Homo sapiens: one gene and its partners. The protein of the gene in region 2 purifies or fractionates together with the protein of the main gene of each other region. This does not show direct contact. Each region holds a gene or a part of one and is shown on either strand. Other genes may lie near its edges. The genes, in order: CYB5A, ARHGAP15, HACD3 and BCAP29.

Region 1 (6,009 bases), on a different chromosome or scaffold from region 2:
TGTGAAAGGAGACACTCAAACCTATTTCCCGCACCTCCAGTCATATGGCCTCTGTGGGTCTGGATGAGTAACACATTGAAGGAATCCTCTAAATAACCAGATTCTAAACATTAAAGACAATTATACACCAAACAGGCAAACACGGTGCATACTTTAAAAGCCAAATATATTTTTAAAAGATCATGCTTATAATAAGTAAATTACACATTAAGGAAACATCAAAATAAAGTAGATGAATAAAAAGGCACACTCGAAAAATTTGAGCGCAGAAAGGACAGTTCTTTTTGTTTTGTTTCTAATGTCGGAAGAAAAAGAAAGAGATATATTAAAATCATTGTTTTCAAGTGAAGGTTTCTGTCAGTTGAAGTAGTTAGCAATGGCTTCTTTTCTCCCGTGTCCAAAGCAGGCTCTTCCTGCGCTGACTTCTGAGGAGGTGTTCAGTCCTCTGCCATGTATAGGCGATACATCAAGGCGACGGCCACTGCAGAGATGGCAGGGATCACCCAGTTGGTCCACCAACTAGAAAGACACAAAAAGCAATGATGCTGACATGATGTGCACTGTGGTGGACTCAAAATCTTTGCTCCTTCTAACAGAAAATTACCAGGGCATGTTTTTCTTAACTCTGTAATGAATTTTGCTGAAAAGGCAACGTGGATTTGCTAAAAGTGACATGAGTGTAACACATGCCCTGCTATACTAGGAATCACTCTGCCCTGCTGGCTTTATGAGAAAACTCATGCCCCACTTGGCTGGGCTCAGTGGCTCACGCCTGTAATCCCAGCACTTTGGGAGGCCAAGGCAGACGGATCACTTGAGGTCAGAAGTTTGAGACCAGCCTGGCCAACATAGTAAAAACCTTCTACCAAAAAATACAAAAAGTAGCTGGGCGTGGTGGCAGTAGCTAATTGTAATCCCAGCTACTTGGGAGGCTGGGGCAGGAGAATCGCTTGAACCTGGGAGGCAGAGGTTGCAGTGAGCCGAGATCACGCCACTGCACTCCAGCCTGTGTGATAGAGCGAGACTGTCTCAAAAACAAACTAACAAAAATAAACAAACCAAAAAATGAATGCCCCACCAGCTGTAAAGTTGAAGAGTATGGGCCCTGTGATGATTAACACTGCCATTAACACCACAGCTTTAAGCTTAGGTTTGGAAAATCTAATCTTTACTACCTGTGCTGAAGTGGATTTAAAGGGTTAAGAAACAGAATGGCCAGACTACTTGGTGTGTGGTCCACAGGTCTAAATTCACCAAAAAAAAAAAAAAAAAAGCCTAAATTTACAGTCCTGATGCATAGAATTTCGATCTATAAATTACAGATTACAAATCAAATCAGGGACAAAGGAGGGATGAGCTATAATTTCTATTTGAATCTTTTTTTTTTTTTTGATACAGAGTCTTGCTCTGTTGCTCAGGCTGGAGTGCAGTGGCACGATCTTGGCTCACTGCAAGCTCCGCCTCCTGGGTTCACACCATTCTCCTGCCTCAGCCTCCCGAGTAGCTGGAACTACAGGCGCCCGCCACCATGCCCGGCTAATTTTTTTGTATTTTTAGTAGAGACAGGGTTTCACTGTGTTAGCCAGGATGGTCTCGATCTCCTGACCTCGTGATCCACCTGCCTCGGCCTCCCAAAGTGCTGGGATTACAGGCGTGAGCCACCGCGCCTGGCCTCTATTTGAATCTTTAAATTAGATTTGAATCTTTAGATTTTGATCTTTGACTTAATTTCTTAGAAAAATGGAAATTAATGTGTAGGCTTTAGAAATAGACTTGGTATACATATGTGTTTCATAGGGACTACAAGTATAATCCTTTCATAAGGATTACAAGTGAAACTTTCATAAGAATTACAAGTGTAACTTTTGTCTTAGTGGGGTTTGGTGGGGTTTTTCAATTTCACTTTAGAAAGAAACTGGCTTGTTAATGAAGAGTAAGGTGAAATACTGCCTGCAGGCAGGGAATATTCCAGAACACCAACGGACTGAGGCAGTTAAATTTGACAGGATGAAATACAAATGTGTGGTTTTGAGCTTGGGTCCAAAAAAGTGGCTACTACTGAAGTCAATATGGTAGAGCTGCCAAAGATGTTAATGTGCACTTGGACTATCATAAACAAATCTGGTGCCTAGAACAATTGAGTCGTGCTACACATAGATTACCAGCTTCAACTTTAAAGCTAATAAAAATGACAAAGGAAAACTGACCCATGTTTAGGGAAATGTAATCACTAGAGTTTAAGAAACAGACATGGATTGAAAGGAAGGAAATGTCTGCTTGGATGAGCCAGGGAGGTGCTGTGGGACTGGCCGCCTAAGATGCTGCCCTGGGGGAAAAGGAAATGCAATTGTTCTGTTTGTTCCTTGGGGTGGATGCAGCCAGCCAGCTAGATCACGTGGCTGTGGACAGTGTTCACAGTCGGCTACCTGAAAGTTTGAGGCTGAGTGCTCTGAACAGTCTGGCCTTCAGCAGAAGGTTGCTGAGACAGCACAGTGTCAGGCCCAGGAACCCAGAAGGTGGGGGACGCACCTTGTCCAACCTGGACCCATGAGCCCTCCCACCCACTACTGCTTTAAAAGAAAGCTACCACATACCTGGAACTAGAATCAATAGTAGTGATAAGAGTTTCCTGAAACACGAGAGGAAAAAGTAAAGTAAGTTCAAGGGAATGCTGAACTTATTTCATTGACTAAAATCCTGTTTGAAAATAAGAACACAATATTTTATGCAATGCATTCTTCAGAAGATGTCGAAAGGGAAAATTATAAACTTCTTTTCACTAAAATGCCTAACTTTGTTTTCTTCCAGAGTAAAACATTTTAATCATTATATTTACTTAAGGACATAACCTCAATAATTTAAAAACATTCAAAATTAATATGCTACATAAAATATCTTGCACACGCTAGGCATCTAAATAATGCAGAAACTGAAAACAGACATTCATGTTCACATACACACAATCCCACGTCACCTTTAGAAAAAGCAGTTTAATTCTTCAAAAGCATGAACACAATGTTCAATAAAAACATCAGTTATTTCATTCAAATCTGACAGATGTAAAAAAGTGTACCTAAATTACATTAAATATATGTGAACCAAAAAGAAAAAAGAGGACTGCCATTTTAAGTTCTACATTCTAGGCCAACTTTCCCGGGGGGCTGCTTTAATTCTGACCAGACGGAACCAGCAAGACACCAGACCAGCCTCACAGGACTGCTGTGCCCGGCGTCACACTTGTCACCAGCTGGTCACTGTCAGCCTAACAGCAAATCCCCAGATAAGGAAGCCCTGTTTTTATCCTCCAGAGCTTTCTGGGAGCAGCTCTTTTGAGTAGCACTAAAGTGAATGGACAATGGTTCTGGAAAAACGCATACTTCTCCAACAGCTGAAAAGCTAAGGTCTAGTGAAATATCAACTTTTTGGGGCTTGAAAATGGGTTAAGAAGCATTCTTTTGATGTTCCACACCAACATAAGCATTAGGGCCTCAAACAGAAGTTGCCATAAATAAGACAGCTTCAGATCTGCAGTTTCCCAAAGCAAAGATAAAAAGCATTAGCAAAACAATCAGCGGCCTGCAGTAAGGCAAGCATCACTCTGCAAAGCACGTTAGAGAAACTCCCGTGAAAAGACAGACCCCTTTCAGGGAAAAGCAAGCAAAGCAGTTATGAGACCCACCAACCTTGAAACACCGCCTTTAAGGTTCCTGACACAGTAGGGGAAAAAAGGTAAGTCATTTAAAAATAAAATTGCAAATTTATTATCTATTCCAGCAATTTTAAAATCTTAGCATCTATAAAAAGTATTCATAACTACAGCAAGAGGATTTTCCAAATTGTGTATATATGAATAAAATTAACAAAAATTACTAGAAATAATCAAAATATACAAAAATATTAGTTAGCTATTAGAGGACACAATCAGTTCTGAAACAAAAGAATCACTGAAGGTAAAATATGATTGTCAAACTAGAAAGTTAAGTTTGAAACAGCCAACGGAAGGCAAACACAAACATCCACGGCGTCGTTAAAATGAGGGCAGGCATTTCACCAACGTGCTGACAACTCTGGAACCTCCCACCTGCCCTCCTGCTGCCTTTGTGGTTACCATGGGAGAGCGCTAAGGTTAAAACACTACTCTGGCACCAGCATCATCAGCAACAGCCATGAACTCTAAAGAGGGGAACTTGAAATAATCGTATCACCTTTTGATTGTTGATTATCTTCTTGGCTCTGTAGCCCAGGATGCTTGACAGTTAAAGGAAGTTTGAATTACCACTTTGCACTTTGATGGAAAAGTAATTGGTCTTTAGTGGTCAGTGCTCTGAGGGCCTCACTTGGGTTTAGGGACGTGACTATCAAAGAATGTCAGCAATGAACAAGGAGAAAGAATATGGTTTTTATGATTGGCTCTGCCACCTGTTCACTCCATGACTTCGAGGTTCAACTTCAGTAAAAAGAGGTTAACAATTAAATCAGTGTGTCAAAGTCTGGGCATGGTGGCTCAGGCCTGTAATCCCAGCACTTTGGGAGGCCGAGATTGGCGGGTTGCTTGAGTCCAGCAGTTCGAGACCAGTCTGGGCAACATGGTGAAACCCTGTCTCTACAGAAAAATACAAAAATTAGCTGGGCACAGTGCTGTGTGCCTATGGTCCAGCTACTCGGGAGGCTGAGGTGGGAGGATTGCTTGACCCCGGGAGGTGGATGGTGCAGTGAGTCCAGATCCATGCCGCTGCATTGCAGCCTGGGCAACAGAGTGAGACCCCGTCTCAAAAAAGTAAAATAAGTATGTCATGCATAATGACTTATAAAAGTCATGTGAATCAGTGTAAATTACAGTAAGCTCCATAAATTATGAAAAGCATGCAAAGCCCAACAAGCTTTTGTGAATCAGAGTCATCTCATTTATAAGTTCATCTAACGTAAACTTTAGTGGGAAGCCTATCTCCCTTAAAATACTGACAGAGTGATGTCTAACACGGCAAGCCCAGAACCTAGAGGAGAAGCTTAAGGGACTGCAACTGACCAGCCTGAGATGGGTGCTAGATGGTTCTGGAGCACGTCTGTGAGCCGGGTGCTTAACACTTCCCAGCTGCAATGTACCTACCTCCCTTGGCAGGTCTAACATGGAGACACTGTGAGGACCAAATAACTTCTACAAGAATGCTTTCAAAACTATAACCAAGAAGGGGTATTGCTACGACTAATATTCTCTATGTAAGCAAATGTGATAGAAACATTTATGTTAGATTAAAATGCATGATTTCTAAGTCTACAAATATCTTAATTTGGTAACTTAACACTATGCTTTCCTTAGGGCAGGTTCAAGCTAATAATCTTTACTGCATTTTATTTCACTATTCAACTAGATATTTTAAGCAGGCAACATCTCAAAACTTTAGACCACAGTGTACATTCTTCAACCTGGAGATCGGCCGATGGTTATACAGACACATGACAAAAGAAATCCCTAAGGACACTCTTTACTTCCACTAAACCAAAAGCACAAGAAAGATACATCCAGAAAAATGCTCATGTATTTCCTTTCATTTCATCTGCTTATGGCCTCTCAAAAAGGCCAGCAAGTTCTTGTCCCACATTCTTCCGGTTCTGCTCTCACTGAAGCAAAGTCACAATAAAGAAGAGTTGTTTAAAAAATACTCAGAAGTTAGTTAATCTGTAAAATCTCTGAAGAGAGTAAAAACATCTACTTTAGGCTGGGTGCCGTGGCTCACACCTGTAATCTCGGCATTTTGGGAGGCTGAAGCAGGCGAATGCCTGAGGTCAGGAGTTCAAGACAAGCCTGGCCAACAATGGTGAAACCCCATCTCTACTAAAAATACAAAAATTAGCTGGGCATGGTGGCAGGCACCTGTAATCCCAGCTACTCGGGAGGCTGAGGCAGGAGAATTGCTTGAACCCAGCAGGTGGATGTTGCAGTGAGCCGAGATCACGCCATTGCACTCCAGCCTGGGTGACAAGAGCAAAATTCCGTCTCAAAAACAAACA
Region 2 (6,595 bases):
TAAGAACCTCAGGCACCTGAACAGGTAAGTCAGTGCCTGTCCTTACAGAAATATCTCCACTGACTTCAAACTCTTCTGCAAAGAAAATGTCACTTCACAGTGAGATAAATGGAAGAAACAAATACATCCTGACCCTAGACAGACAACCCATCAAGATGTAAAAGTGTGGACATCCAATTACGTATCTCCCCTGCTCAAAAACCCTGCTGTTACTTATATCCAGGTCTACTCTATTTATGATCTCACACTATCTTTCTGGCCTACCTCTTATTACTATACTTCTGTCTAACAAAACTGGAGAATTCACACTACTTTGGAATTCTCTGACACGCCGTGTTTTTGTGCCTTGACATATTTCCTTCCTGTCCCTTGCAATGTTTCTCATCTTCCCAGTGCTAGATTTCCCTGAAAACTACCACAAAACTTTCCTCCAAAACTGTCCAGAACTCCCTGAAAGTATGTGATCAGATGATACAACACTTACAAAATTCTCTAGTTTATGGCTCGGCAAATAACAGGAATGCAAAAATGCTGGATGAATTTCTGAACTCTAATAGAGCATTCTCTGTATCTTCTTATGGTACTTGACAAATTGTATTTGCATCATAATTATTAAAATAATAGTCACTCTGGATTATAAGCTTTTAGAAGGCAAATGTTGTGAGGAGTTGTCAAACATACAGTAGCTGTTGAAAAATATTTTAAAATTTAGTTTAATTCAAACTCATGTTTCAATCAGATCCGCCTTTCAATTAAAACTGTATTTTTGTACAATTATGGAATTTGAAGAAGTTGGGAAATAATGACTGTTTAAAATGTGACCATACGTGACTCCGTAGTAGAATTTTGAGGCTTTTGTCCTTTCTTCTGGGGAAAGCATTTTAATTTCTACATCAGGAGACCCCTCTTTTTAGCAGAGAGCCCAAGTGCTGCAGCTGTAGCTGCCCCCAGTGCAGGAGTGGGCCTGTGAGCTAGGCATGGTCACGCATGCTGTCTGCACCCAAGTTCAGTAATTGTTCAGCTATGGTCATGTGATCCAATTCAGTCCCATCAGATCTAAATCTGACACTTTGCTGTGGTGACTGGGGAAAAGCATTCTTTCCCCACAGTTTGCTGAAAGGATCAACTCAGTAGGAGCTTGACAATTTCGTGAGAGCTTCCACTAGAGACTGCTTACAGCATAGTGAAAAGAAGAGCTGAGGAATGAAAAAAATGAGACCTACTCCTGATAATCCTGTGTGAGCTCCTGGATCCAGCCATTCCTGACTTTGCTATCCTTAGACTTTTCACACATAAAAGAATATCTCTTTTGCCTAGGCTAGTTTGAACTCATTTTCTATCGTTTGCCAACAAAGAAGTTTTGCACACTCTAAGCTCAAATTTAGAATACTTACAAGGGCATTTTAAAGTCTAATTATGTAGCATTTATTGTACAGTGTAAAAAATATGCTTTTAGTATCCAAAGAATTAAATTCAGAGTGTTCAATGACTTTTAAAATACATCTATTAAAAACTAATTATGTTAAATAATTTCTAAGTGTATGGGAATATCAAAATTGCCTGAAAATGTAGTGCAATATTTTTTTTTTTTTACCTGCTGCAAGAAAGGTGTTTATTTCTTCAGGACTATCTTAAAGAAATGGATACATCACTGGGATGGATCCTTCATATGAGACACTTCCAGAAATTCTGTGTTTAAATGCCACAGGCAGGACCAATGGTTAACAAAACACTCTCCCTCTAAAGTCTTCCCCCAACCATTTACCATGGCATCAGTCTCCTCACTTGAGATCCAACATTTAGCTAATCCTTTGGGCCCTGTCTGCTGAGGAAACATATTAAAATTCCACTGGGGGGAGAAAGGGAGGCCTGGCTAGGAAGTCAAAGCTCTGTAGCCTTCTCCTATAAGCGTGGATTATTTTTATTAGATTCCCTAAGTGCTGGAAAATGGGATGAGTACATTTTAAAAGTTCAGTTGAATGGAAGGAGCCAGTGAATGGAAGGGTCTATCTTTCTAGGTACCAAGTCTATGGGACTCTAAATTAGGAGCAGAGCAGGCCGCTCCAGAAGAGAATAATAAAAAGGAGCAACAGGAGGAATATCAAGGAAAGAGTTTCTCCTTTCTGAATCTTACTGAATGCTGGCCCTAAGTGGAAAAGCACGACATTCTTTGAGCAAATTAGCTTTAATATGACTTTCCAAATAAAATCTTCCGTATTATTTTCATTTCATCAAAACTTGTTTCTGACTCATCCACTTAAAACATATAAAGTAATAGAATTCTATAGTAACTTATTTGCAATTAACTGTCTTAAAATTTGGTTTGTACCTTACTGCTCTTTACAAACAATTCTGAAGGTATTTTAATTTACCTATCATCTTTACTCATTGATCTTTCTAAATTCATATCAAGCTCTCTTCAATTCATTCTTAATTTTACACATATTCCATAAAATATGTGTATTTTAATTTAACAGTTTCTGCAAGAAACACTCATTTTTACAGTGAATTTCTTTTTTAAAAGCATTAAACAATTTAAAAAATTTTCATGGACTTTTCCTCAATGCCAGATGTTTATCTGCATATTCATTCTTGCTAAGGTGTAAGTATTGCATGTGTTTATTCATTTGATATTCTTTTATAATAAAATGAAAGAAAGTAATAACATATCAACCAAAATTATCAGAATTATACAGCTTCTATAGATGCAGAGGTTCAGAACCACGATATTGAAGACAGATTTAAATAATGCTTTCCATTGTGAGGAAATGCAACAAATTGAAAATCTAATCACAATATCAAAGCAAATATATATTACCAGGGTCTTCTTACATGCTAACAATAAAAAATGTATTGAACACCAAGTCCTAATCTCTATTTTTCTGTGATCATTTTAATAGTCAACAAGTAGCTAGCTTCAGTATTGACAATTGAAGAGGTCTTAAAATGGAGTGTACTACTATGCCTAATAATTTCCTACTAAATTGACCATGTCAAAAAACATTTATGTGTGTCTTTCAATAGAAGACAATAAAAGAAAAGAAAATTGTTGCCACTTATCAACCCTGTAACCATTTTTTAATAACACAAAAAATAGGTGTTGTGGGGGCCATCACTTCTCCCATCCAGCAGCACAATAAAAATAATATTAGGGAAGAATGGATCATATCTTGGGCTGTTATTAAAATTCTTTCAAAAATCTACAGTCAGATTTATTTTAGGTATTTGTCTCTGAGATTAGCAATATTTTGATGTTTTCTGCACATATGTTACAGCACACAAAGACATTCTGTAAAAGCAAGAAGTCAATATAAAAGAAAATTACATGTCAGTTTAGGACTAACAAATCCTTTTCATTTCTAAGGTTTATTATTTTGGAATATTTCAAAGAAGGAAAATTATATAATTACATAAATAACAAAAGTATACCTCTAATTTGCCTCTCCTCTCAGAGTAACCTTCAATGAAATCAGCTGTGACTTCTTTTTTAAATATAAAAGTTTGCTTATGAATTAGAAACTTACACTCATTTCACCCTATATCTTAAATGAAATTTAGAAAAAAAATTTCAAGTGTCATGATAGACAGTATTCCTTTACATTTTAAAAGCTCCTTGCTTTTTAATTAGCTACATAGTAACCTTTTTAAGGGTTTTTAGTGCTAACATTAATACAATGCTTTAAAGTGAGTATCTTTCACACTGAAATTCAAGCTATTTCTCATTGTTATACCCTTTTCTCTTTCCTTATCTGGATGTTGAACAATACATATTTTTATAAAACAGTTGGTTAAAGGTGCAAAGTCTCACATTATTTCTAGTAGTTATTTTTAAATGCACTTCAAACTAAAACTTTATAACTTATTCTGTCTTTAACATTTTAGTACAAAATCTTAGCAAATCATCTTATTATTATAACATTTTAGTAAAAGACATTGGAATTTGACAGCTGCAAATATGAAAAGAACATTCTTTTCTACATCAAAGGAAACCAGCCAATGTTTTAATCACAGGTAAAAGCGTCATATTTTGTAGAAATGTTTATATGTTCACACCAAAATGTAGGAAACTCTGCCGAACATGTTCAAGTTTAAATTTCATGTACAATATAAAGTTAAAACTTACCTTTTCTCGGCAATGACCTGTTATTGAAACTGCCATCAACTCCTAACTGTTAATGACTCTTTCAACAAAAACGGAAAACAGTAAAGTCACATGTCGTAAGAGTAGGCCTGTGTTGGATGCTGCTTAATTTCAGTACTGGGGGAAGAAAAAGGCGGGGGGTGGGGTGAGCACAAAACTTTTAAATAAAACCACTTCCTGGGTAGAGACAGTTAACCACACACATCACATCATTACTCAATTTGAAGAAATTGCCTTGTATAGTCAACAATATTGTTATTTTTCAATGTTATTATCAATTGTCAAACAAGACACATGTATAGAGATTTTATCAATTTTAACTTAAGGGAGGAAAATGTGTGATTAAAAATTCATCAGTGGGAGGAGCAGACTGCTAAGCACTGAAGAAACTTCCTCTTTCTCTGCCTTCTAGCAAGGGCTGAAAAATGAAGCGTCTACTCTGCTGGCTACGCTTGAGATGCTCCCATGCTATCAGGACACTCTGCATATTGACTTTGGAAGCAAGGAAGCCACCTCCAATTCACAGAGCTGGTGCCTCTGCCTCATTCATGAAAGGACCCACCAAAACCTGATCCAGTTAACAGGTTCATCAGGCCTTGGGAGGGTTGCATTAGAACTTCAGAAAACACAGCCCAGAGCCACGCCGCCATCTGAGCATCTGGGGAAAAGGCAGGTGTTCATCATGCTCGTCGAACACACCCTGTGGCATTTGCTGTGACTGTGGCTCTCATACGGATGTGTCCACTCTGGCAATTTCCTAAGCAGTTCTGAAACCTGCTGAAGAGCTTTTGCTCTAGCTGAGTGATTCTTTGTGTGGTCTGACTTAAAAAGAAAAAAAATATATATTATAATAAAGGATCCAAACAATATCATTTTGGCATGCTGCTGAATGCCCTCTTGTGTCAAACTTCAACAAACCCAAGACATATTTGTAAGGGGTCTCAGAAATAACTCTAGGATGTGCATCTTTATTGAGCCATGGAGTTCAAGAATAAGCTCCTGGATTTTCAGGCTTGGCTGGTTTTGTGAGATTTGCAGCTTAATCATAAAAGGAAGAGAGGAAAAGCTTTCCTTCCAAATATATGAGAGAGTTAAATCACAATCTCTTGTCATACAAACCAATTAGACTAGAAATCTGTGTAATAGAGCTCAGTGGTATAGAATGTTTGGCATACTAAAAGTCAATCTTTAAAAATAGATTTGGTGGATATGGCCCAAGTTAGGGATGGCATGTCCCTATCAGTTAACTGAATTTCTCTGGGATCTTTTTCTAAAAATCACATTTCAGATTGACCCTAGAATTCACTGTCAGTTCTCATTTCAGGAAGGACCTTTTTAAGTGTTTAGAGTCCTGAAGATTTGTACTGAATGCTTCTCCTTAACACCGAAGAGAAAATGGAAAGTTCATAATATTAAAAGTGAGGAAAGCAGAATTCCGGGCTTAATTCTGACACTGCTATTCACTTAACCTTGGCCAAGTTACTTAAGTTCTCTGAAATTTAGTTCATTTATCCATGTAATGAAACATCCGCATAAAAAAATCCATCTTGGGGAACACGATAAGTAAATAGATGTATATATTTTGTATATCATAAGGAATTGTAGATATATAAATTAGCATGAGCTGGGAAATGTTGATAACTCCTAAGAAGCATCAGAGAACTTCAGTACATTCTGCTTGATTTAAGCCTTTGTAAATCTGAGTTAGACTCAGAAGTCTAGGACAAGGAAAATAAATTAGGCCTTTCCTTGTTTTTGTTTGCTTGTTTTTACGGAGTCTCGCTCTGTTGCCAGACTGGAGTGCAGTGGCGCGATCTCAGCTCACTGCAAACTCTGCCTCCCGGGTTCAAGGGATTCTCCTGCCTCAGCTTCCCGAATTGCTGAGATTACAGGCATGCACCACCATGCCCAGCTAATTTATGTATTTTTAGTAGAGACGAGGTTTCACCATGTTGGCCAGGATGGTCTCTATCTCTTGACCTCATGAGCCGCCCGCCTCGGCCTCCCAAAGTGCTGGGATTACAGGCGTGAGCCACCACTCCCGGCCATGCCTTTCCTTTTAAATAGATACTAACATCAGGCATCTGACTAGGAAAAATATAAAATAACAATATACCCTTATGGTAATAAATAAATGTAAATACCTGCTTAAGGGTGACACAATATTTGTTGGCATCAACAATTAGTTAATGGAGACAAGTGCCCCTTTTCTTTGTATAAGGTGGAAGGTGAGCCCCTTAGGCAGTGTGATATGCCTGGGTTTGATTTCTTTTTTCTTTTCTTTTCTTTCTTTCTTTTTTTTTTTTTTTTTGAGACAGAGTCTCGTTCTATTGCCCAGGCTGGAGTGCAGTGGCATGATCTCGGCTCACTGCAACCTCCGCCTCCAGGTTCAAGTGATTCCCAGGTTCAAGTGCCTCAGCCTCCCGAGTAGCTGGGATTACAGGCGTGCACCAC
Region 3 (6,009 bases), on a different chromosome or scaffold from region 2:
TGATCTGTGATCAGTGATCTTTGATGTTAACTTTTTTTTTTTTTTTGAGGCAGGGTCTCACTCTGTTGCCCAGGTTGGAGTGCAGCAGTGTGATCATAGCTCACCGTAGCCTTGAACTCCTGGGTTTGAGCAGTCCTCCTGGCTCAGCCTACCAAGTAGGACTACAGGTACCTGCCTAGCTAATTTTCAATTTTTTAATTTTTTTAGAGGTGGGGTCTCATTATGTTGGCCAGGCTGGTCTTGAACTCCTGGACTTAAGCAATCCTCTTGCCTTGGCCTCCCAGATCCCTGAGGTTACAGGCTTGAACCACTGTGCCTAGCCTTGATGTTACTATTGTGATTGTTTATTATTTATTTATTTATTTTTGAGACAGGGTCTCACTCTGTCACCCAGGCTGGAGTGCAGTGGTGTGATCTTGGCCCACCGCAACCTCCGCCTCCCAGCCTCAAGTGATCCTTCCACCTCTGCTTCCCAAGTAGCTGGGACTGCAGGCATGTGCCACTGTGCCCAGCTAGTTTTTGTATTTTTTGTAGAGACGAGGTTGGTCTCGAACTCCTAAGCTCAAGTGGCCTGCCCACCTCGGCCTCCCAAAGTGCTGGGATTACAGGTTTGAGCCACTGTGCCCAGCCACCATTGTGATTGTTTTATGGCAAAATGAAATGCACCTATATAAGATGGTGAACTTAATCGATAAATGTATGTGTTCTGACTGCTCTCACTGGCCATTCCTCCATCTCTCTCCCTCTCCTTGGGCCTCTCCTCTGAGACACAACAATATTGAAATTAAGCCAGTTAATAACCCTACAATGGGGTCGGGTGTGATGGCTCATGCCTGTAATCCCAGCACTTTGGGAGGCTGTGGTGGGTGTGTCACTTGAGGTCAGGAGACCAGCCTGGCCAACATGGTGAAACCCCGTCTCTACTAAAAATATACAAAAATTAGCTAGGTGTGGTGGCGGGTGCCTGTAATCCTAACTACTCAGGAGGCTGAGGCAGGAGAATCACTTCAACCTGGGAGGCTGAAGTTGGGTGAGCTGAGATCACGCCACCGCACTCCAGTGGCAGAGTGAGACTCTGTCTCAAAAACAAAACAAACAAACAAGCCCTACAGTGGCTTCTAAGTGTTAAAGTGAAGAGTTGCACATGTCTCACTTTAAATCAAAAGCTAGAAATCATTAAGCTTAGTGAGGAAGGCATGTCAAAACTGAGACAGGCTGAAAGCTAGGCCTCTTGCACCAAGCAGCCAAGTTGTGAATGCAAAGAAACAATTTTTGAAGGAAATTAAAAGTGCTATTCCAGTGAACACCCAAATGATAAGAAAGCAAAATATCCATATTGCTGATATGAAGAAAGTTTGAGTGGTCTGGATAGAATATAAATCAGCCACGACATTCTCTTAAGCCAAAGCCTAATCCAGAACAAGGCCCCAACTCTTTCAATTCTATGAAGGCTGAGAGGTGAGGAAGCTGCAGAAGAGAAATTTGAAGCTAGCAGAAGTTGATTCATGAGGCTTAAGGAAAGGCTCCATAACATAAAAGTGCAAGGTGAAGCTACAAGTGCTGATTGTAGAAGCTGCAGCAAGTTATCCAGAAGATCTAACTAAGATCCTTGATGAAGGTGGCTGCACTGAACAACAGATTTTCAATGTAACAGCCTTCTACTGGAAGAAGATGCCGTGGAGGACTTTTATAGTTAGAGAGAAGTCAATGCCTGGCCTCAAAGCTTCAAAGGACAGTCTGACTCTTTTGTTAGGGGCTAATGCAGCTGGTGGCTTGAAGTTGAAGCCAGTGCCCCTTTACCATTCTGAAAATCCTAGGGCCCTTAAGAATTATGTTAAATCGGCCGGGCATGGTGGCTCATGTCTGTAATCCCGGCACTTTGGGAGGCCGAGGCAGGTGGATCACCTGAGGTCAGGAGTTCAAGATCAGGCTGACCAACATGGCGAAACCCCGTCTCTACTAAAAAATAAAAAAAATTAGCTGGGCATGGTGGCGGGCGCCTTTAATCCCAGCTACTTGGGAGGCTGAGGCAGGAGAATCGCTTGGATCTGGGAGGCAGAGGTTGCAGTGAGCTGAGATCGCACCACTGCACTCCAGCCTGGGCAATAGAGAGAGACTCTGTCTCAAAAAAAAAAAAAAAAAGAATTATGCTAAATCTACTCTGCCTATGCTCTGTAAGTGGAACAACGACTCCTGGATGATAGCACATTTGTTTACAGAATGGTTTACTGAATATTTTAAGCCCACTGTTGAGGCCAACTTCTCAGAAAAAAAAAAAAAAAAAAAAAAAAATATATATATATATATATATATATATATATATATATATATATGTATATTCCTTTCAAAATATTACTGCTCATTGACAGTGCACCTAGTCCCACCCAAGAGTGCTGATGGAAATGTCAAGGAGATTAATGTTGTTTTCATGCCCGCTAACATAACATTCCTTTTGCAGCCCATGGATCAAGGAATAATTTTGACTTTCAGGTCTTATTTAGAAAATACTTTCCGTAAGGTTAAAACTGTCGTAGGTAGTGATTCTGTGATGGATCTGGGCAAAGTCAATTGAAAACTTTCTGGAAAGGATTCACCATTCTAGATACCATTAAGATCATTTGTGATTCATAGGAAGAGGTCAAAATATAAAAATGAACAGGAGTTTCGAAGAAGTGGAATTCAACCCTCATGGATGATTTTGAGGGGTTCAAGACTTCAGTGGAGGTAGTAACTGCAGGTGTGGTAGAAATAGCAAGAGAACTAGACTTAGAAGTGGAGCCTGAAGGTGTGACTGAATGCAGCAATCTCATGATAAAACTTGAAGGGATGAGGAGTTGCTTCTTATGGATGAGCAAAGAAAGTGATTTATTGAGATGGAATCTATTTCTGATGAAGATGCTCTGAACATTGTTGAAATGACAATGAAGGGTTTATACTGTTTCATAAACTTAGTTAATAAAGCAGTGGCAGGGGTTGAGAGTATACTCTGATTTTAAAAGAAATTATTCTCTGGGTAAAACAGTATCAAACAGCATTGCATGCTGCAAAGAAATCTTTAGTGAAGGAAAGACTCAATCAATGAGACAAACTTCATTGTTGTCCTCCTTTAAGAAATTGCCACAGCCACTCCAGCCTTCAGCAGTCACCACCTGGATCAGTCCACAGCCATCAACATTGAGGCAGGACCCGCCACCAGCAAAAAGATTACAACTCCCTGAAAGCTCACATGATCATTAGCATTTTTTAGCAATGAAATATTTTAAAGTTAAGGTATGTACACTGTTTTTTAGAATAATACTGCATACTTAATAGACTATAGTATAATATAAACATAACATTTATATATACTGGGAAACCAGAAACTTTGTGTGACTCACTTTATTGTGATATTAGCTTTATTGTGGTGGTCTGGAACAGAACCTACAATAGCTCCAAGGTATGCCTGTAAATTAAAATGATAGGATACTGTTTCTCACATTAGAGTAGGAAAATTGAAAAAGCCTGACATGACCAAGTGTTTCTGAGAATGTTCAGTGACAGGACTTTTTTTTTTTTTTTTTTTTTTTTTTTGAGATGGAGTCTCACCGTGTCACCCCAGGCTGGATTGCAATGGCTCAATCTTGGCTCACTGCAATCTCCGCCTCCTGGGCTCAAGTGATTCTCCCGCCTCAGCCTCCCGAGTAGCTGGGACTACGGGCGCCCGCCATCATGCCCTGCTAATTTATGTATTTTTAGTAGAGATGGGGTTTCACCATGTTGGCCATGCTGGTCTCGAACTCCTGACCTCAAGTAATCTGCCTGCCTTGGCCTCCCAAAGCGCTAGGATTACAGACGTGAGCCACCGTGCCCAGCCGGACTTTTTTTATACAGTTGGTGGAAGTACTAATTGGTACAATTGATTTGGAGAACAGTTTTACACTATCTTGTCAAGCTGAAGTTGTATGTCTTTATGAGTTGGAAGTTTTGCTTTTTAGAGAAGCTCTTACACATGCAGGTGGAGGTAGAATGTTCATTGCAGCAAAAAATTGAAAACAGCCTCAATTTTTGTCAGCTGGAAGAATGGATAAATTGTGGTATATTTATACAATGGCACACTGTACAACAGCTACAATGAATGAAACAGAACCATCTTTATAGAATTAAAGCTTAGAAATATAATATCAAATAAAAAGCAAGTTGAAGAATGATATAGGCAGTATGAAATTATTTTTGTGACATGTCAAATCATACTGTATATTGTGAATGCCCAACGTGTTTTAATGAATAAATAAATACAGTGGAAACGACCAACTCCAATCCTGGAGTAGTGGTTACCTGCGAAGTTGGGGCATGTTTGAGGGAGAGGGCATTGGGATTGAGAAATTGTATAATGTATCTGTTTCTGTTTTATTTCTTTTTTTAAAAATTGAGGCAAATAAAGCAAAATGCTAATGGATGTTAGATATAGTGGTGTTTGCTATATTTTTCTGTTTGATTTTGCTTGAAATATTTAATAATAGAAATCAATAAGTCTAAGCTGTTTATTACCACAGTACAAAAACTACTTATAAAGCAGTAAGTTAAATAATCTGGTAACTGTTGACCACTCACAATGGTCCAGGCACAGTGCTAAGTACTAGATATTCAGTAATGAGCAACACATATAAAGGCACTACCTTCAGATTGAGGGAGACAGACAATAGATATGTTAATAAATAATTACCTAGATAAAGTGCTATGAGGGAAATAAAGAGGGTGATGAAATAGAGAATAATTGGTAGAGGCTATTTTAAATAGAGTGGTCAGGGAAGGCTTCCTTGAAGAGGTGATATTCTAGCCGGGTGAAACTTGAAAGTTAAAACAAATGGTGCAGAAAGCTGGGGCAAGAACATTCCAACAAGTCCACAGACTTAGAGGCAGGCAAAGGCTTAGTGGGGTTCCAGGAGCAGAAAGGATATTAGTATGTTTGGAGTGTAGTGAGGAATAAGTTAGAGGGAGATGAGGATAGAAGGGTTTGCAAGATGTAGGTCATGTAGAGCCTTGTTGCCATGGTAAGGAGCTTGGGTTTTATTGTAAGAGCAATGGGAAACTATTAAAGAGTTTTAAGCAGAGAAGTGACTTTGTAGGATTTGTGTTTCAAAAAAGATTATTCTGGCTGCTATGTGGATTATAAAGGGGCAAAAGTGAACTCTAGAAAACCATTTAGGGAGGCTGTTATAGTAGTATGGGTAAGAGATGAGGTGGCTCAGTTTAGGGTTGTGGAGGTGGAAAGCCATGGACACATTTGAGATATATCTGAAGAGAACCTTGAGGCCTTGATGGACTCGTTGGAGAGGAAGGGAAAAGAATTAATGACTAGTCTTAAGATTTTGACTTAAGCACAGAGTAGATGACAACTGAAATGATTAAGACTGGAGAAGAGATTTAGGGGCCAAAATCAAGAGTCCCCTTTTGGACATACTAGTTTGAGAGTCTTGTTATAAACAATTTCCATGTGAAAATGTGAACTAGTGATATAACTATACAAATACAGAGTTCAGGGCAGTAGTCTGGGTGAAAATAGAATTTTATAGTATCTTAGACTTAATTGATTGTAAAATGCACCACTATTTTATTTTTTTCCCTCATGATGAGGGGAAAAATGCTGCTGATTATACTGTGATACAAGCTTTCTTATTACTTTGAGTATTTTTAATTTATTGAAAGAGCTCTCTGAGAGTTTATTTAAACTGTTAATGCTGTTCAGCCAAAGATCACCAAAACACACCTTGTAGTTAAATAAGTTGGGTTTATTGCTTGTTCCAGTGAGGGAAAACACACATCGTAGGGAAACATGTGGTATCTCAGTAAGATGGTGTTAAAAAAGACCTTGTTATATAGGATTTGGGCTTTGATTATGTGATGGCGGGGGTGTCTAAGGAAGTGGGGTCCGCTATAGATTGGATGTTGACAGAAAGCAGGGACAGTTCTATGATTTGGTATTTTGTGGTTGGCATAGTGACCTGTCATTAGACAAATTTATGCAATGGT
Region 4 (6,009 bases), on a different chromosome or scaffold from region 2:
TTATGTCCGTAGAATTTTGGAAGAACAAACATTTTAATAATATTGAGTATTCCAACTGATGAAAAATCCCCATTTATTTTGATTTTCTTTCAGCAATGTTTTTGTAGTTTTCTGTATAGAGCTGTTGTGCCTCTTTTATAAAGTTTATTTCTAAGGTTTTTAGGCTTCTTGGTGTACTTAGAAAAGGAATTTTTAAAAATGTCATTTGCCTATTGTTTACTGCTTATAGTATAGAAATACAATTACTGATACACTGAATTTTTGTATACTGACCCACCTGTATTTTGTGACCCCACTATATTAATTTCTTTGACATAATAACTTTCTTGTAGATACTTTAGGATTATTTCTTTCTTTCTTTCTTTCTTTTTTTTTTTTTTTTCTGAGACAGGGTCTCGCTTTGTCACCCAGGCTGGAGTGCAGTGATGTGATCACGTCTCACTGCAGCCTTGACCTCTTGGGCTCAAGCAACTCTCCCACCTCAGCCTTTTGAGTAGCTGGGACTACAAGCATGAGCCACCATGCCTGGCTAATTTTTGTACTTTCTGGTAGAGACGGGGTTTAGCCATGTTGCCCAGGATGGTCTGCAACTCCTGAGCTTGAGCAATCTGCCCAACTCAGCCTCCTAAAGTGGTGGGATTACAGGAGTGAGCCACTGTGCCAGGCCAGGATTTTCTATATAAATAATCGTGTCATCTGCAAATAAGGATATTTTACTTCTTTCTTTGCAATCTTTAAGCCTTTCATTTCTTTCATGACTTATTATTACCCTGGCTAGGACATCTATTACTCAAATGAATAAACAGAGTGTAAATATCCTTGCCTTGTTTCCAATCTTATGGGGGAAGACTTTGATATTTAAGTATGATGCTAGCTTGAGGTTTTTTGTAGCTCTTCATCAGAATGAGAAATCTTCCTTCTAAATCTTTAAAAAACAACTGAGTGAATATTATTTTTTTCACTGTCAATATTCAATATAATGGGTAGATATTATTAAGGTGGAAACTAAAATCACCGATTTTAAATCTTTTTTAAAAATAAATATTCAAATCTATAATTTTTCCTTTAAGCAGTGCTTTAATGGCATCTTAAAATTTTAATATATTGTATTTTCATTATTGTTCAGTTAAAATATTTTCTAATTTCCTTTGTGAGTTCTTTGACCCAAGGATTACTAACAAGTCTTGTTTAATTTTCAAACATGTATAGGTTTTCCAGATTTCTGTTACTGATTTCTATTTTCATACTCTGTAGGGGCTGGGCACAGTAGCTCTCATCTGTAATCCCAGCATTTTGGGAACAGGAAGGATCACTTGAGGCCAGGAGTTTGAGACCAGCCTGGGCAACAAAGCGAAAGTCTGTCTCTATAAAACAACAAAAACAAAACCCCCATACTCTATATGATTCCAATCCTTGGTAGGACTTCAATCCTTTGTATTTATTGAGACTTGTTTTATGGCCCAGAATATAGTGTATCTTGGTGAAGAGAGTTTAGTATATTCATGTGCCCTTGCAAAGATTATGTACAGCAGGGGTCCCCAACACCTGGAGCCATGCACCTGTACTGCTCCACGGCCTGTCAGGAATTGGGCTGCACAGCAGGAGGTGATTGGCAGGCCAGTGAGCAAAGCTTCATCTGTATTTACAGCCACTCCTTATCGCTCACATTACTGCCCAAGCTATCAGATCAGTGGTGGCATTAGATTCTCATAGGAGTGGAAGCCCTTTTGTGAACTGCGCGTGCAAGGGATCTAGGTTGCATGCTTCTTATGAGAATCTAATGCCTGATGATCTGCCACCATCTCCCATCATCCCCAGATGAGAATGTCCAGTTGTAGGAAACAAGCTCAGGGCTCCCAGTGATTCTACATTACGGTGAGTTGCATAATTATTTCATTATATATTACAATGTAATAATAATAGAAATGAAGTGCATATAAATTTAATGTGCTTGAATCATCCCGAAACCATCCCCTGCTCCTGCATATGGAAAAACTGTCTTCCATGAAGCTGGTCCCTGGTGCCAAAAAGGGTGGGGACTGCTGATGTACAGTTTACAGCTGTTTAGAGAGGCTTGATTTTTATACTTTTTTAGGGTAAGTCTATTTTGCTTTAGGCCTTAGTTATAGTAAATTTCTAATTCCTGGGATATAGTCTCTATTCCTAAGGAGTAGCCCTTCTGTGATTTTAGTGGAAAGGTTCAAGGTCTTTACCAAGCCCCTCTAACGTGATGAGGCTCATACTCCAAACTCTGTCTCTCCTTGGTGGCCAGCAGCCAAAATTTCTTCTCAGCCTTGCTGCTTTTTGCTGGCTGTTCCTTTTCATTGATTTCCTTGGAATCTTTCCTACACATCCATGGTTGAAGAGTCAACCAAGAATTTAAGGGGAGTTTACATGTGGATTTTGGGGTTCCCTTTTTGGGTTCTCTCCTTTCTTAGACATCCTTCTTATTTTTGAATCTATCTGACCTCTGACCCCTTAAGTCAGTTAAGACTGTCTTTTTGCTTTGAGTTCTATATCGTTGTCTATGCCACATGACTGGAAAGCGGTTGGAAGAAAGGCTATATAAATGTGATCACACCCAGTATGATTCCCTTCTTTTAAGGGTTGACGTCCCTCTAGTTTCTGCCTGCTTTTGGTTGCTCTACAAGGCCTTCAAATACCTTTTTTCGTATTTTATCGAGGGTTCATAATTTTTAACACAGGAGAAATAGTCTAATACAACCCGTTTTGCTATGAACAAAGCCAGACTCCTATGTCTTTAACAAAATTGTTTTAATTTATTGAGGCAAAATTCATATAACATAAAAGTAAACACTTTAAAGTGAACAATTCAGTCATGCTTAGTATATTCACAATGCTGTGCAACTACCACCTCTATCTAGTTCCACATTTCCATACTCCAAAATAAAACCCAAATAAATCACTCTAAAACTTAAAAAATCCTTAATTTTTGACTTTATATTTGTATGCCATATCTATTCCTGAAAGTCTTAGTTTCTAATACCATGAACATACTAATTTGCTTGATGCTGCACTATACATAAAACAGCTTTTAAATTACCAACAATAAAACTATTATAAAGTTTCAGATTTCATTGTAATCCTCTTGGTTCTTAAAATGTACCCTACCAGCGAGGTAAAAAGTTAAGAGTACTATGTTCAAGAGTAATTATTTTTCTCTGTGTTATATATTGCAATCTGATGTACTATTCAGTTCATTTGTTCTGACTTATTTTCAATTCTACAGCTTGCTTTTTTCTAGCTCTGTACAATTTGAAGTTTAAATTCTAGAACAGTTTAAGAAGCAGTAGTAATATCTGTTTTCTGAAAGCAGTAGGGTTTCTTATAAAACTATCTGGTTTTTTGCTTTTTTTTTCAAATAGGGGTCCTTTTTGATAACTTTCTATAATTTTTCTATATAAATTAGTCTGCTTAAATTTTCTATATCTACTGGTGTTCATTTGGTAAATCATATTTTTCTACAAAATTATACATTTTATCTAGGTTTTCCAATTTATTTGCATAGTTATATAAAGTAGTCTCTTAAATGATCTTTAGAAAATTTCCTGTATCTTAATGGCTATTTCCCCTTTGTCATTTCTCAGATTGCCTCAATAATATAGTAAGAGCATGCCAACCACTACCAAAAAACCAACAAAGATAATATATATTTACGACTTATTTTAAATAGGCAAATAGTGAGTACTATGAAGGATCATTATGCTTCGTGATTCATCTTCCTTGGTAATTAAATGGGAATAATACTCCTGAATCCATTATGCAGAAAAGCTGAAGATTAACCAATAATATTAAAAAGGTTTATTAATGTCAATGGTCATGTAAACATACCTGTAGAATACATCACCTGTATACTAAAAAGGTAACTATGTCTGAAAAATGGAATGGAGTCAACAATAAGGGAAGGATGTGACATATAGTCAATTTTCTATAAACCACCTGAAGATGATCCAATTTTAGATCAGTTATGGAAACTTTCAAATTCCTGGGATGCATTTCTGCTAACACTAAACACACTCTTGAAATTCCCACTTCCATTCTGTCTCTTACCAGCACCTAAAATACACACACATGCACACACACTTGTATGCACACACTCAGTTAGTGTTGGCTCTAAGAATACAAACACTTCTTAATAGCTACCTTATTTTGGCTGGGTGCAGTGGCTCATGCCTGTAATCCCAGCACTTTGGGAAGCCGAAGTGGGCGGATCGCTTTGAGCTCAGGAGTTTGGGACCAGCCTGGGAAACATGACAAAACCCTGTCTCTATTAAAAAAAACAAAAATTAGCCAGGGGTTGGTGGCTCTCGCCTGTAGTCCCAGCTACTTGGGAGGCTGCAGCTGGAGAATTACTTGAGCCTGGAAAGTGGAGGTTGCAGTGAGCTGAGATCGCACCACTGCATTTCAGCCTTGGTGACAGAGTGAGACCCCGTCACAAAAAAAAAAAAAAAAAGAATAAATACATATAAAAAGAAAATGTATAAAAAAGTTACCTTATTTAGAGAGATAACCAAGAAAAAGGAAATAAATTTCCAAGTAAAATATAAATTAAGCATGAGTAATCCACTGGTTTTGCATTATTTACATCGTTGTGGACTCGAACATCAGACTCTGCACTTTACATATGTTACTGCGTTTAAATCTTAAAACACGAAAGTAGGTGTCATTACTCCATTTTGGATGGAGACCTAGAGGATAAGCACCTATCTGGTTGCCTTAACTATCCATGATGTCCTTGTTCTCTGGGAATTAATTGCCCTGTTTACCCAAAGATGCAGGCTTCAGCCAGCAGTCATGATTCTCCCTTGTGACCTTCCTGGTTATAGGAGATGAGGAGTAGATAACTGGTACTAGCTGGTCCAATTTTTTTTCCTTTGATGTGGAATTGGGATTCAGAGATGATGAATTAACCCTTGCATACGTCTGGAATGGGTACCACACCTGGCAGCTGTGTGGTACCCATTTACTGCCTTGGAGATAGACAGAATATCAGAGTCCATAATAAAAAAGAATGAAGTATATATAGGAAAAATGTATATGGCCAAGAAAAGGACATTTCAGTTCCAAGTACTAATCCCTCCCTGGAATTTGGCTTCCTTCCTTTCTTGGGCTACTCTGCAACAGCCCCGTATTTTATTACAAATTTTTCCTTTTTTAGTCAAGCGAGTTCAAGTTGGTTTCTTTTTTTTTGAGACGGAGTTTCACTCTTGTCACCCAGGCTGCAGTGCAATGGCGCGATCTCGGCTCACTGCAACCTCTGCCTCTCGGGTGCAAACAATTCTCCTGCCTCAGTTTCCTGAGTAGCTGGGATTACAGGCACGCGCCCCCATGCCCGGCTAATTTTTGTATTTTTGGTAGAGACAGGGTTTCACCACGTTGGCCAAGCTGGTCTGGAATTCCTGACCTTAGGTTGATCCACCTGCCTTGGTCTTTCGAAGTGCTGAGATTACAGAGGTGAGCCGCCGCGCCCGGCCAAGTTTGTTTCTAATGTAACCAAAAGAACTTATACTACAACTCCCCTCCCTTACATGATAAGTGACAGTTTTCAATAGAAATTTTTGTGATAATTTTAGAGTTAGAAGATCATAAAATCAGGAGCTGCAGAGATTCTTTCCATCTCTCCCTTTATTTCACAAGATGAATAAATCAAACCCAGGAAATAAAAGCCATTTCAAAGGTCCTTTAGTTAGCTGGTGGCAGAACTGGAACCGGTTTTCCTTATTGTTCTTTACTGACTTCTCATAACTAGTTATATGGCTAGAGATTCAATCCATAACATTAATAATGTACCATGAGACAAATATTTACATCTTGAAAAGAGGCACAAATCATTCACACCTTTCTGTTTTTGACAATACCATCCCTTCTCATACCAGATGTTCTTAGTTTTATAAAGAGGATTCTATTTGAGAGATTGGTGGTTTGGAACATGGAAGACATTTTCTCACAAAACAGTGTCAAAGATGGCGGTTAGGGTCCCAAGTTCGC

Evidence for each region.
Region 1: the proteins of ARHGAP15 (region 2) and CYB5A purify together in Homo sapiens (affinity purification with mass spectrometry; one large-scale study listed by BioGRID and IntAct). This does not show direct contact.
Region 3: the proteins of ARHGAP15 (region 2) and HACD3 purify together in Homo sapiens (affinity purification with mass spectrometry; one large-scale study listed by BioGRID and IntAct). This does not show direct contact.
Region 4: the proteins of ARHGAP15 (region 2) and BCAP29 purify together in Homo sapiens (affinity purification with mass spectrometry; one large-scale study listed by BioGRID and IntAct). This does not show direct contact.

What each region holds. Positions count from the first base shown.
Region 1 is NC_000018.10:74,253,147-74,259,155, forward strand, and holds part of CYB5A (cytochrome b5), read right to left. Parts: intron 3,708-6,009; coding exon of another isoform or gene 3,699-3,707; exon of another isoform or gene 2,793-3,698; intron 2,630-2,792; coding exon 2,595-2,629; intron 520-2,594; coding exon 438-519; 3' UTR 1-437.
Region 2 is NC_000002.12:143,126,995-143,133,589, reverse strand, and holds the start of ARHGAP15 (rho GTPase-activating protein 15), read right to left. Parts: upstream 4,172-6,595; 5' UTR 4,160-4,171; coding exon of another isoform or gene 4,124-4,159; intron 1-4,123. UniProt on the Homo sapiens protein: GTPase activator for the Rho-type GTPases by converting them to an inactive GDP-bound state. Has activity toward RAC1. Overexpression results in an increase in actin stress fibers and cell contraction.
Region 3 is NC_000015.10:65,535,668-65,541,676, forward strand, and holds part of HACD3 (very-long-chain (3R)-3-hydroxyacyl-CoA dehydratase 3), read left to right. Parts: intron 1-6,009. UniProt on the Homo sapiens protein: Catalyzes the third of the four reactions of the long-chain fatty acids elongation cycle. This endoplasmic reticulum-bound enzymatic process, allows the addition of two carbons to the chain of long- and very long-chain fatty acids/VLCFAs per cycle.
Region 4 is NC_000007.14:107,585,194-107,591,202, reverse strand, and holds part of BCAP29 (B-cell receptor-associated protein 29), read right to left. Parts: intron 1-6,009. UniProt on the Homo sapiens protein: May play a role in anterograde transport of membrane proteins from the endoplasmic reticulum to the Golgi. May be involved in CASP8-mediated apoptosis.